Linked DNA regions of Homo sapiens. The protein of the gene in region 2 purifies or fractionates together with the protein of the main gene of each other region. This does not show direct contact. Each region holds a gene or a part of one and is shown on either strand. Other genes may lie near its edges.

Region 1 (4,835 bases), on a different chromosome or scaffold from region 2:
GGAATGAAGTGGAGGAGATACCAACTTTATTGTTTTATAAAAATGAAGGGAATGGTTCTTCAAAGGAATGGTTTGCAGTCAAGTAACCATGTACAGTATTAAGTCAGATTAATTTGATAAATATCTAAAGTGTTTTGATCAGCATCAAAGTGTTATATTAAAGAATATTAAATATGGCCAGGCGTGGTGGCTCACACCTGTAATCTCAACACTTTGGGAGGCCGAGGCTGGTGGATCACGAGTTCAGGAGATCGAGACCATCCTGGCTAACATGGTGAAACCCCGTCTCTACTAAAAATACAAAAAAAACTAGCCGGGCGTGGTGGCAGGTGCCCGTAGTCCCAGCTACTCGGGAGGCTGAGGCAGGAGAATGGTGTGAACCCAGGAGGCAGAGCTTGCAGTGAGCCAAGATTGTGCCACTGCACTCCAGCCTGGGCGACAGAGTGAGACTCCATCTCAAAAAAAGAAAAAAAAAAAGAACATTAAATATATTTATTATAGTTTTAAAATGAAAATATCATCCAACATTTTTATCCCAAGGACTATAAAGCAAAGCAAAAATAGAGAGGTATCAGTGAAGTGGCATCAACCCTCTGGTCTAATGCCACTGAATGGGACCAAGTATTGAAGATAATTACTTACCACATTTTGGTTAATAAGATGCGCCACAAATTTTGAAGCAGTCAGGCAAAGTTGCTGAAAAATAAAGGTGGAAAGTTAACCTATAAACTAAACCCAATTTTCATTTATTTACATAATCTATGGCCTACTAACATCATCTATTTAAAACATGTACCACACAAGTATAATTTTTACATTATAAGAAAGTTACAAAATAAAACACATGAAAGAGTATCCCTTCTGGTTAAATAGTTATAGTTCTACAGTTATAGCCATCATTTTTGTGGCTCATCAATAGTGGCCAGGGATATTTAACAGATCAAAGAAGTTCTCATGAAAGACAGTTTTTAAAAAGCATTATGTTATGTAGCTGTGTCAAAATCAACCTTGCTTACTTTTGTTGATACTGGTTTGTTAGTTTGTTCCTATGTATCATTCTACTTACAAGCCATTCATATATACCTTGTCATTTCTTCGATAGCCTTTTCGAAAATTAAGAATTAACCTTTTGAGGATTAATTCTCCAATTTGTGGAAATTTTGAGTTGATAATTGCCACTAATGCTGCATAAACATGGGTGAAGATTGGAGAAGCACTCTGTGCTTGCAAAACAGACCTGGACAGCAGTCCTCTGTTTAAAAAAGAATTTAAAAAGGAGTCAACAATAATCACCAAATTAATTAAACGAAACAAAAACTATTAAAATTCAGTAATATTTCTCTATAAGTAATCATAAAATCTAAATCAGAACTAACTGGAAAGAGTTTGTCTTACTAATAAATAAAAATTGTTTTTCAGAAAACGAAATGTGAATTTGTGATTTTGTAAAATAGAATGAAGATTTTACTGCAATTTATCACCAAAATTTTTCTCTCTACATATAATTCCTCTTTTCCCAGTCTGTTATATCTAATCATGAATTTGAACCTTAAAAAGGTTCATATAAATAATTTCTTTAACATTTTTTAAAAAGTAAACAAAAGCAGACCTGCTTCAAAAGTATAAAAGGTAGATAACATAAAGTTTCTACTACAGATCTGTCATTTTTATAAAATTAATTTTGTGATTAAAGACAAATTTGGGTTTAAATCTTTAAGTCTAATTTTAGTAGAATAAAATGAAGATGTGGAATACTCCTGTGAGAAATAAAGAAACGAATTAAAAGCAATGCCAGATTAATGCTAAAACAGTAACAGGAAATTAAAAGGTACCTACTTGTAACTCATTTTGAAAATGGTCATGTTTCTATATGCATTTGATGAGGAAGGGGAAAGGCAAATTGGGCAAACTAAAGTTACTTTTAGCAATGTAATGACAAGTAATTATTGGATTGCCAAAAGTCAGGAAAAAAAGTCTTAATGGTAGTTTTAGATATGACAACTGAATCACTAGAGTGGAAAATAAGAAAAAGGATGCAGCTTATAAATTATAGTATCTTTAGCAATCCATAACTCTTCTAAGTCTACTTTTTTTCTAAGTAAATTGGAGAGATCTCTGCCCACTTTTGAGGATAATGGCTGTCTCTTGATCAACTTTCTCTACCTCTAAAACTTGCTGCTCCTACTTTATACCCCCACCTTTTTTGGAGAGGTTGGGGAGAGACAGGGTCTCACTCTGTCACCCAGGCAGGAGTGCAGTGGGGCGATCTTGGCTCACTGGAAGCTCTGCCTCCTGGGCTCAAGCAATCCTCCCACCTCAGCCTCCGGAGGAGCTGGGACTACTGTGTGCCACCACGCCCAGCTAATTTTTGTATTTTTCATAGAGACAGGTTTTCACAATGTTGCCCAGGCAACTCCTGGACTCAAGTGGTCCTCTTGCCTCAGGCTCCCAAAGTGCTAGGATTACAGGCTAGGATTACAGCGACCGTGCCTGGCCACTACATTCCATATTTTTTTAAAGATGAATCATAGTCATGTAAAATGACATGAGAAAACAGCCCTCAGATTTTAAAATAATAAATACAACATGGAGTAATTCTATTTTCTGACCCTTTTAAATATCACCAATTGCTTAAAGCCACATATTCTTATAGAATACGGTGATTCCCTTCTGCTTTTCTAAAATGTATTGCTCATCTTTCCCATTTCTCTCACATTCCCATTTCACTCTCACTAGAAATTAAATTGGAATAAAGGCCATATATGACGAACCCATAGCTAATATACTCAACGGTGACAAGCTGAAAGCTTTTCCTCTAGGATCAGGAATAAGAAAAGGGTGCCTACTCTTTCCAATTCTATTCAACATAGTACTAGAAGTCCTAGCCAGAGCCATTAGGCAAGAGAAAGAAATAAAAGGTATCCAAATCAAAAATAGAGAAGCCTGTTTGCTGTAAACAGGATCTTAATATAGAAAACCCTAAAGACTTAACCAAAAAATTGTTAGAACTAATAAACTAATTTAGTAAAGCTGCAGACACAAAATCAACATACAAAAATCAGTAGTGCTTCCATATGCTTACAATGAACTATCTTTCTGAAAAATCAAGAAAACATCCCATTTACAATAGCTATGAAAAAAAAAGTTAGGAATAAATCTAACCATGGAGATGAAAGAGCTGTACACTAAAAACTACAAATTGCTGATGAAAAAATGGAAGAACATGCATGACATCCCATGTCCATGGACTGAAATAATATGTTAAAATGTCCACAGTACCCAAAGCAACATACAGACTGGACTCAATCCCTATCAAAATTCCAGTTACGTTTTTCACAGAAATAGAAAAAACAATCCTAAAACTCACATGGAACCACAAAAAACTCCAAATAGCCACAGCAATCTTGAACAAAAAGAACAAAGCTGGAGGCATCACACTCCCTGACCTGGAATCTGCTACAAAGTTATAGTAATCAAAACAGAATGACAATAGTATAAAAACAGACACATAGAGCTACAGAGAACAAAGAAACCAGAGATAAATCCAGACATTGGCAGTCAACTGATTTTCGACAAAGATGCTAAGAAGACACAATAGGGAAAAGACAGTGTCTTCAATAAATGGTGCCAAGAAAACAGAATACCCAGATGCAGAAGAATGAAAATAGACCTTAGTCCCACAGCATATACAAACATCAACGCAAAACAGATTAAAGACTTAAACATTAGACCTGAAACTGTGAAACTACTATAAGTTTCTAAAAGAAAAATACAAAGGAAAAGCTCTGAGACACTGGTATGGTTAATGATTTTTTGGATATGACCCCTAAAGCACAGGCAACAAAAGCAAAAAGAGACAAATGGGATTACATAAAACTAGAATGCTTCTGCACAGCACAGGAAAATATCAACAGAGTGAAGAGATGACCTACAGAATGGGAGAAAACATTTGCAAACATACACCTGATAAGGGGTTAATATCCAAAACACATTAGGCATTCAACTCAATAGTAAGAAAACAAATAACCCAATCTAAAAAATGAGCAAACAAGAACAGACATTTTTCAAAAGATGTACAAATAGCATATATATATATATGAAATGCTAAACCTCACCAATTATCAAAGAAATACAAATTAAAACCACAATGAGACATCTCACAACTGTTACAATGGCTGTAATAAAAAAGATGAAAAATAGCAAGTGTTGCCAAGGACATGGAGAAAAGAGAATGCTTGTACACTGTTGGTAGAAATATAAATTAGTACAGCCATTATGAAAATAGTATAGAGGTTCCTTAAAATATTAAAAACAGAATTACCAGCCAGGTGCGGTGGCTCACGCCTGTCATACCAACACTTTGGGAAGCCAAGTCGGGAGGACTGCTTGAGCTCAAGAGTACGAGACCAGCCTGGGCAAGATGGCAAGACCTCATTCTCTACAAAATATTAAAAAATTAGCCCAGTGTGGTGGTGAGTGCTTGCGGTCCCAGCTACTTAGGATGCTGAGGTGAGAGAATTCCTTGAGCCCAGCAATTCAAGGGGGCAGTGAACTATGACCATGCACTGTACTCCGGCCTGACAATAAAGCAAGACCCCCATCTCTAAAATAAATCAATATAAAAAAAATTTTTTTTTATTGTAACTACCATTTGATCCAGCAATCCCACTATTGGGTATATATACAAAGAAAATGAGATCAGTATGTTGAAGAGGTATCTGCACTCCCACATTTATTGCAGCATTATTCACAATGGTGAAAATATGGAAACAACTAAAGTGTCTGTTGTGAATAAATGGATAAAGAAAATGTATACATGTATAATGGAATACTAT
Region 2 (5,702 bases):
AAAGCGTTTCCTGGACGGTCCCTTCATTTGCATGGCATCAGAAGCTGCTCAGAAGGTGTGACTTTTCCCACAGTGAGACCCCAGCTCCTTGCACAATAAAGCCAGGCTGCTTACCCAGAATTAATTAAAGGGGGAAGGGAGCAGAGGAGGAGGCGCTAAGAGCTGGGGGAACTGGAAGAGAGACATCTAGGGCCCCTTCGCTACATCCAGTGTCTACGCACCAGCAGAAACCCACTCTCTCCAGAGCCCCTCACCGCCTGTGGCAGGCCACGAGAGGTGGCTGGACAGGCCAGCCTTTACTGCCGGGCTTCCCACTAAGCCTCGAAATTCCTGATCTGCCGGGGTGGGCTAAACCTGGGACTTGGGCCTGAAACTGTGGGAGGAAGCCTTGGGTTGCTCCCTACCCCAGGAGATGCCAATGGACAGAGTCCTAGAGGAGCGAGGTTTCTAGACTGGCTCAGTAGCTGGGCTGTGGGACCAGCCCAGGGCATCCACAAGGAAGGAAGCAGGAGCAGCCCTAATGGGAGGCCTCAGCGATGAAGCCTGGGCCAGCTCTGCACTCAGGAAACTGCCGTGGGGCCTGGGCTCTCCCTCGGTGTGGCAGGACACCAGTCTCACCAGTCCACACGCAAACACACACCTGCACCCTTGCCCATTCCCTTCTCTGCCCACACCATGACCTGCTCCACCACTCCCACAGCAGCCCTCCCTCCCTCCACATACGGCCTCCTGCTTCTCCCCAAGGCTATGACTGCCTTTAGTTCTGCGCTAGGCCTATGAGCTTCCCTTCTGGTGCCATCCGGTGCCCAGCTCCTCTCCCGCCAGGCCCATCCTCCGAGGTGGGCAGCCTCTTCCTGGAAGACAGTTCCCCAGGCTCCTCACCGCACCTCAGCTCAGTGCTTTCTGCCCACAGCTATCTCACCATATCACCCAAGGTTAACACTTGTCCCACATCACCATTGTCAACACCAGTCTTGGTGGTCCCCCTCCAATATGCCCCCACCTTGGACCCTGGCAGCTGCTCTTTTCTTTCATTTTCTGGAGCCTGAGTCTCAGAAAGAGCAAGTTCTGGAATCTCCAACCTGTCTCCCACATGGACCTAGGCACTCAGAGAAGCACTTTTTAAGAGGATTAAATCCATGATTACAGCTCTAGCCCTAGCACATCCATTATTTCTGGCCCTGAGGTGGCCTGGGGAAGTGTTAGCAATGACCTCTGTAAAGTGCTAGGAGGTACACATCTGAGAGCTCCAAGGACTAGCTAAGAGCCTCTTCTTGCCCCTTTCCCTGCTTCTGTCCTTGCAGGAAAACCCCTCAAGTGACAGTGATGGGGATGGTTGACAGGCAGGTGTCTTTAGGCTGGAGGGAGGCTGTGGTCAGAGCTGGCACCTGGTCATCTGCGTCTCCCAGCCGCCCACCAGCTGGGGCAAGGTTGGAGGGAGGGGCTGACCCCGGCAGGACTCACTCTCCAGCACACATTTTTAATATGCAAGTTAAATAAATATTTCAATCATTTAATAGCCACCAGTCTGATACCCACTTCTAAGAGGACTGCCCTATGTCACAGTCCTTTCCTCCCTGCCCCACCTGGGGGTGCAGTGGAGTCCCTGGCTGCCCAGCCAACTGGCCCTGGAGGTACTGGGGCCTCAGCAGCACAGGCTAGAGAAAGCCCCCCACCCCCGCAAACCCCCAGCCGGAATCCCAGTCTAGGCCACTAATGGAGCTTTCTGAGAGTTAAGAAGACAGACACCACAGCCAAGTGGAATACAAAAATAGAGCCTCTCTTTTGTTTTAAAAAAAAAAAAAAAAAAAAAAACAGCAAAAACCCAACAGCAAACAATATCAACAACCGGAACCCAGGGCTCCCCCAGCACCTCCCCAGCCTGCAGAGCAGCGCACAGCTCATCTTGCTTGAGTTTTGGGTGCCCTACAGGATGAGCCTCTCTGCGGTCTGGCATTGTGGGGAGGGCCAGGCAGCACCTATCGGGGCTCGGGGGCCCAAGTCCTCTGGCTGCCGCGCAGGCTGCGCGTGAAGGGCGGGTAGTTGAGGAACTCGAAGCGCAGGCTCTGCTCGGTGGTGTGGTGGCCCCGGGGCAGCCGCTTCATGAAGTGGACCTCACGCTGGTGCTGCCGCGTCTTGGAGCCCTTGCGGGGCCGGCCCTTGCGGGTGAAGGCCATGTACCAGCCCTCGTACTTGGCATTCTGCAGCGCTGTGTAGTTGTTCTCCAGCACAATCTCCGTGAAGACGCAGTCCTTGCCTTTGCCGTTGCTCTGCAGGTAGGGGAGCCAGACACCACGTTACAGAGCCCCCCCAGCAGAGGCAGAGGGCGAGCGGCCCCAGACAGCAGGTGGGCACCCCAGCAGATGGCGAGGTGGGCAGGAGCCGCAGCCCCACCCCCTGCCTGGGCACCCGCTCTCTAATCCCTCACAACTCGCAGCCCACCCGGCAACTTCCTGTCCTCCCAGGCAGCAGTGACACATGGTTGTCTACGGAGGGGCTGGGCCCCAACGCAGAAAGACAGAGAGAGGGGCCCAGAGCCTGGCCTGCTCTGGCCTCCTGCCCACCAGTCTGGCCACCCGTCTCCCCACCTGCCCCTCTCACCCCCCCAGGACTTCGGTTCCCTGGCCCCAGGGCAGCCACCCTATGGGGGAGGGGAGGCCTGGGAGAAGATGCTAAGACCCCAGCCCCAGAAGCCCAGGAAGTGGGGAGCTCGAGGCTGGAGAGGAGCCGTGACTAATGGAGCCATTTCAGAGCTCGGCCGAGGGGCTGGGCCTGCGGCTTACTGAACATTCCAAATGCTGGTACCATGTAATTGGACATAATAGCAAAGCAATTTGGCGATTTGTTAAAAAGATATATGGAATTTACCAACCACCACCCCCCAGCCCCTTCCCTAGCCTTCATTCTTCCTCCTTCGCCTTTTATAGTTTTCATCTCTCAAACAGCTTCCTTCTCCCTCACTCCTGCACCCAATCGTGAGGTAACCCCAAGATGGCCCTGTGGCCTTCTGCCTACCTTGTTGGGATCAGAGCCCAGGACTGTCTTGGAGGAGTCCAGCCAGCCCAAGCCACTCCCTAGGTCCCGCGGACCCCACCTGCCTGCTGGGGCCTCACCTTGGCGATCAGCTTCCCCTTCTTGTTCATGCAGATGTAGAGGCCCGTCTCGGCTCCTCGGACTCGAACTCTGCTTCCAAAGGTGTCCGTCTCCACGATGAGCTTTGCTGTCAGAGAAGGTAGCAGGATGGCTATTGGCAGATCCCTGACCCCAGCTGGCCCACACACTTGTCACAGCCCAGCAGCAACTGCTCCAAAGACCAGGAACCCAAAACATGGACTCCAGCTCCAGCCCAGCTACTAACATGCTGTGCAACCCAGAGAAAGGGCTTTTCTGGACCTCGGGCCCCACCCCTGGGTTTACAGAGGGCAGTGGACGGGATTATGGTTTTCAAACTGGGTTCTCAAGAGAGGTCTTGGGACTATCAAATTGAAAAGGCTGAAGTGCCATTCCTTCCACCCTCTTTTTAAACCAGACAGTGATGTCTCTTAGATTGAGGATCTAAGTAAAATTTAATTGAATCAGAGTTCCATAGCTAATCAAAAGATCTCCGAGGATCCTTCCAACTCCAAATATTATGTGTGCGTGTCTCACAGGTCATTACAAACACTTGGGTGAAGGGGTGACCTCCAGTCCCAAGGCCAAAGATGAAAGCATTGTCTCCTGTTTCTGCCACTTTGGGTTCTAACTCACAGCTTTGGCCACCCCCAGCCCCTCAACATCACCAGGCTCTGCTCTGCTGAGAAGGTGCTAGGGATGGGGACAGCTCTCCCTAAACACACAGCCCAAAGCAGGCTGCTTTCCCAGAACCTCAGACACCTGCCAGGAGGATCCTGCCTCTTCCCTGTGGCTTCCCAGTCACCAGGGTCCCCAGCCCAGTGTCTAGAAATCAACAACTCAATTGTCTTTTCTCTTTCAGCCTCATCACAGCTGGGCTTCTCAGCCCAGTGACCAAATAGCTTCTGTGGGTGAGGAGGAGGGAGAATCCTGCCTGCTGGCCTCTTAGACTGGAGGCCAGGAGGCAGGGCTGAATTCTATGCCTCCTTTCCCATTCCCCTCCCCTTAGACAGCCAACTTGCCACAGAAGCCTGTCCTGTTCACCTCTCTGTGCAATCATCTCTTATAGGCTGTCCTCAAGAAAGTAGTGAGGGTGACTTCACTGTTTAGGAAGGGACAGAAGGCGCTGGCTCTCCTGCCGTCCCTGCCGCAGAGCCCAGCCTCTCCCCTCCCTGAGAAAGCAGTTCTTGGACTTAGCCTGCATTGACATATGGCACCTCCTCTGTCCCTGAAACCCATGGCAGGGGTTTGGGGCATCGAGGTCAGCAAGTCAGTCATCACTGCTCAGCTTGTAATGTTCCCCGCTTCACACAGGCTCAGTGCTGGGACCAGTGGCCAAGCCCCCGGTTTGGCCCCAAGTCAGCAGGGAAATGCAGCTGTCACCTCCCTGCCTGCCCACCTCCTCCTGGACCTAGCCAGTCTGCTCATCCCTCTCCCGCTCTGCCTTCCACAGCAAGAGGCAGCTATTTTTAAGGGCCAGGAAGGATGCTGACTGGAGGAGTGAGAGGATGCCACTCTGGGGATTCTGGCCAGATGCGGCAGGCAGGGATGAAGTAGGTGCCTCTGCATCTTCCTGGGGCCGGTAAAGAAGCCATTGAGACCTCTCTGCTATTCTCCCCGGACTACTCCTGTCCTGGCTGAACACCCTGAGCCTCTGTTCTTAGGGCCTCCAGCTCCTATCCTGCTGTGGGGCAGGGACTAGGGAAGGCGGGAAACCTCTTATATGGCCACGGAGAGAAGTGGACATCAGGCTTCCTCTGATGTCTGAAGATGAATTCCCCCACACCAGCTTGACTTCTGCTTCCCTCCCCGAAATCCAAGGATGCTGGGCCATTTGCTCTGACAGAGCAAACCCTGGAAGAGCCAGGCATTCGTCTCCTCTCCTTAGAAGCTGAGAAGGGCAGCAAGCAGCTAATTTGGAGGGACAAAGGGATGGTAGGCCTGCTCTGCCAGCCCAGTAGGGGAGCTCGGCCACCAGGCAGGCCGCCCCCACCCCCACCCCAGAAAGCCCGCTCTCTCCCATGTCGGTTGAATCTGCTCCGATCTGGGGAGCTGGGGCCGCAGTTTACGGCAGCTCTCCCGACCGGGCTTTTGGAAAGCTTAACATTTTCAAACCTATTCTTCCACCCCAGTGACAGATTTATCCCAGGAAAATTATGTCTCCTCCAGCTTTGAAGGGAAGTCAGCTACGTCGATGCAGAAAAAATGCAGCGAGACATACTCGATCCCCCAAACTGGCTCAAGAAGAGGAGAAAGTATTCAGGAAATGTTAAAAAAGGTGAAAGTAAGAAGAGTTTTAATCGCTCTGCCAGACGCAGGGGTCTCTCCAGAGATTCAGAGAGAACAATCTTGAACCTCTTTTTTAACATTTACAGACTTGCAACTCCTTTCAAACTCCACATCTGAAAAAAAGCTCGTTCTTTTTCTGTTTTATATCATTCTTCATTTTTCTTCTTAGCTCTTAAAATGCCTCACCTTTTTATTACATTTTAATAGAGTCTTCCCCTCTCCTTTCATGCTTGTTTAACGTGGTCATTATTTAAAGGTTTTTAAACTCACAATAATCGCTCTCTAAAAACAACACCAGCCGC

The links.
Region 1: the proteins of FGF8 (region 2) and CWC22 purify together in Homo sapiens (co-immunoprecipitation; 3 studies listed by BioGRID and IntAct, with this or other methods). This does not show direct contact.

The regions. Positions count from the first base shown.
Region 1 is NC_000002.12:179,972,551-179,977,385, forward strand, and holds part of CWC22 (pre-mRNA-splicing factor CWC22 homolog), read right to left. Parts: intron 1,253-4,835; coding exon 1,084-1,252; intron 697-1,083; coding exon 643-696; intron 1-642. UniProt on the Homo sapiens protein: Required for pre-mRNA splicing as component of the spliceosome. As a component of the minor spliceosome, involved in the splicing of U12-type introns in pre-mRNAs. Promotes exon-junction complex (EJC) assembly.
Region 2 is NC_000010.11:101,768,350-101,774,051, forward strand, and holds the end of FGF8 (fibroblast growth factor 8 isoform F precursor), read right to left. Parts: intron 3,228-5,702; exon of another isoform or gene 3,221-3,227; coding exon 3,114-3,220; intron 2,348-3,113; exon of another isoform or gene 2,271-2,347; coding exon 1,980-2,270; 3' UTR 1,760-1,979; downstream 1-1,759. UniProt on the Homo sapiens protein: Plays an important role in the regulation of embryonic development, cell proliferation, cell differentiation and cell migration. Required for normal brain, eye, ear and limb development during embryogenesis.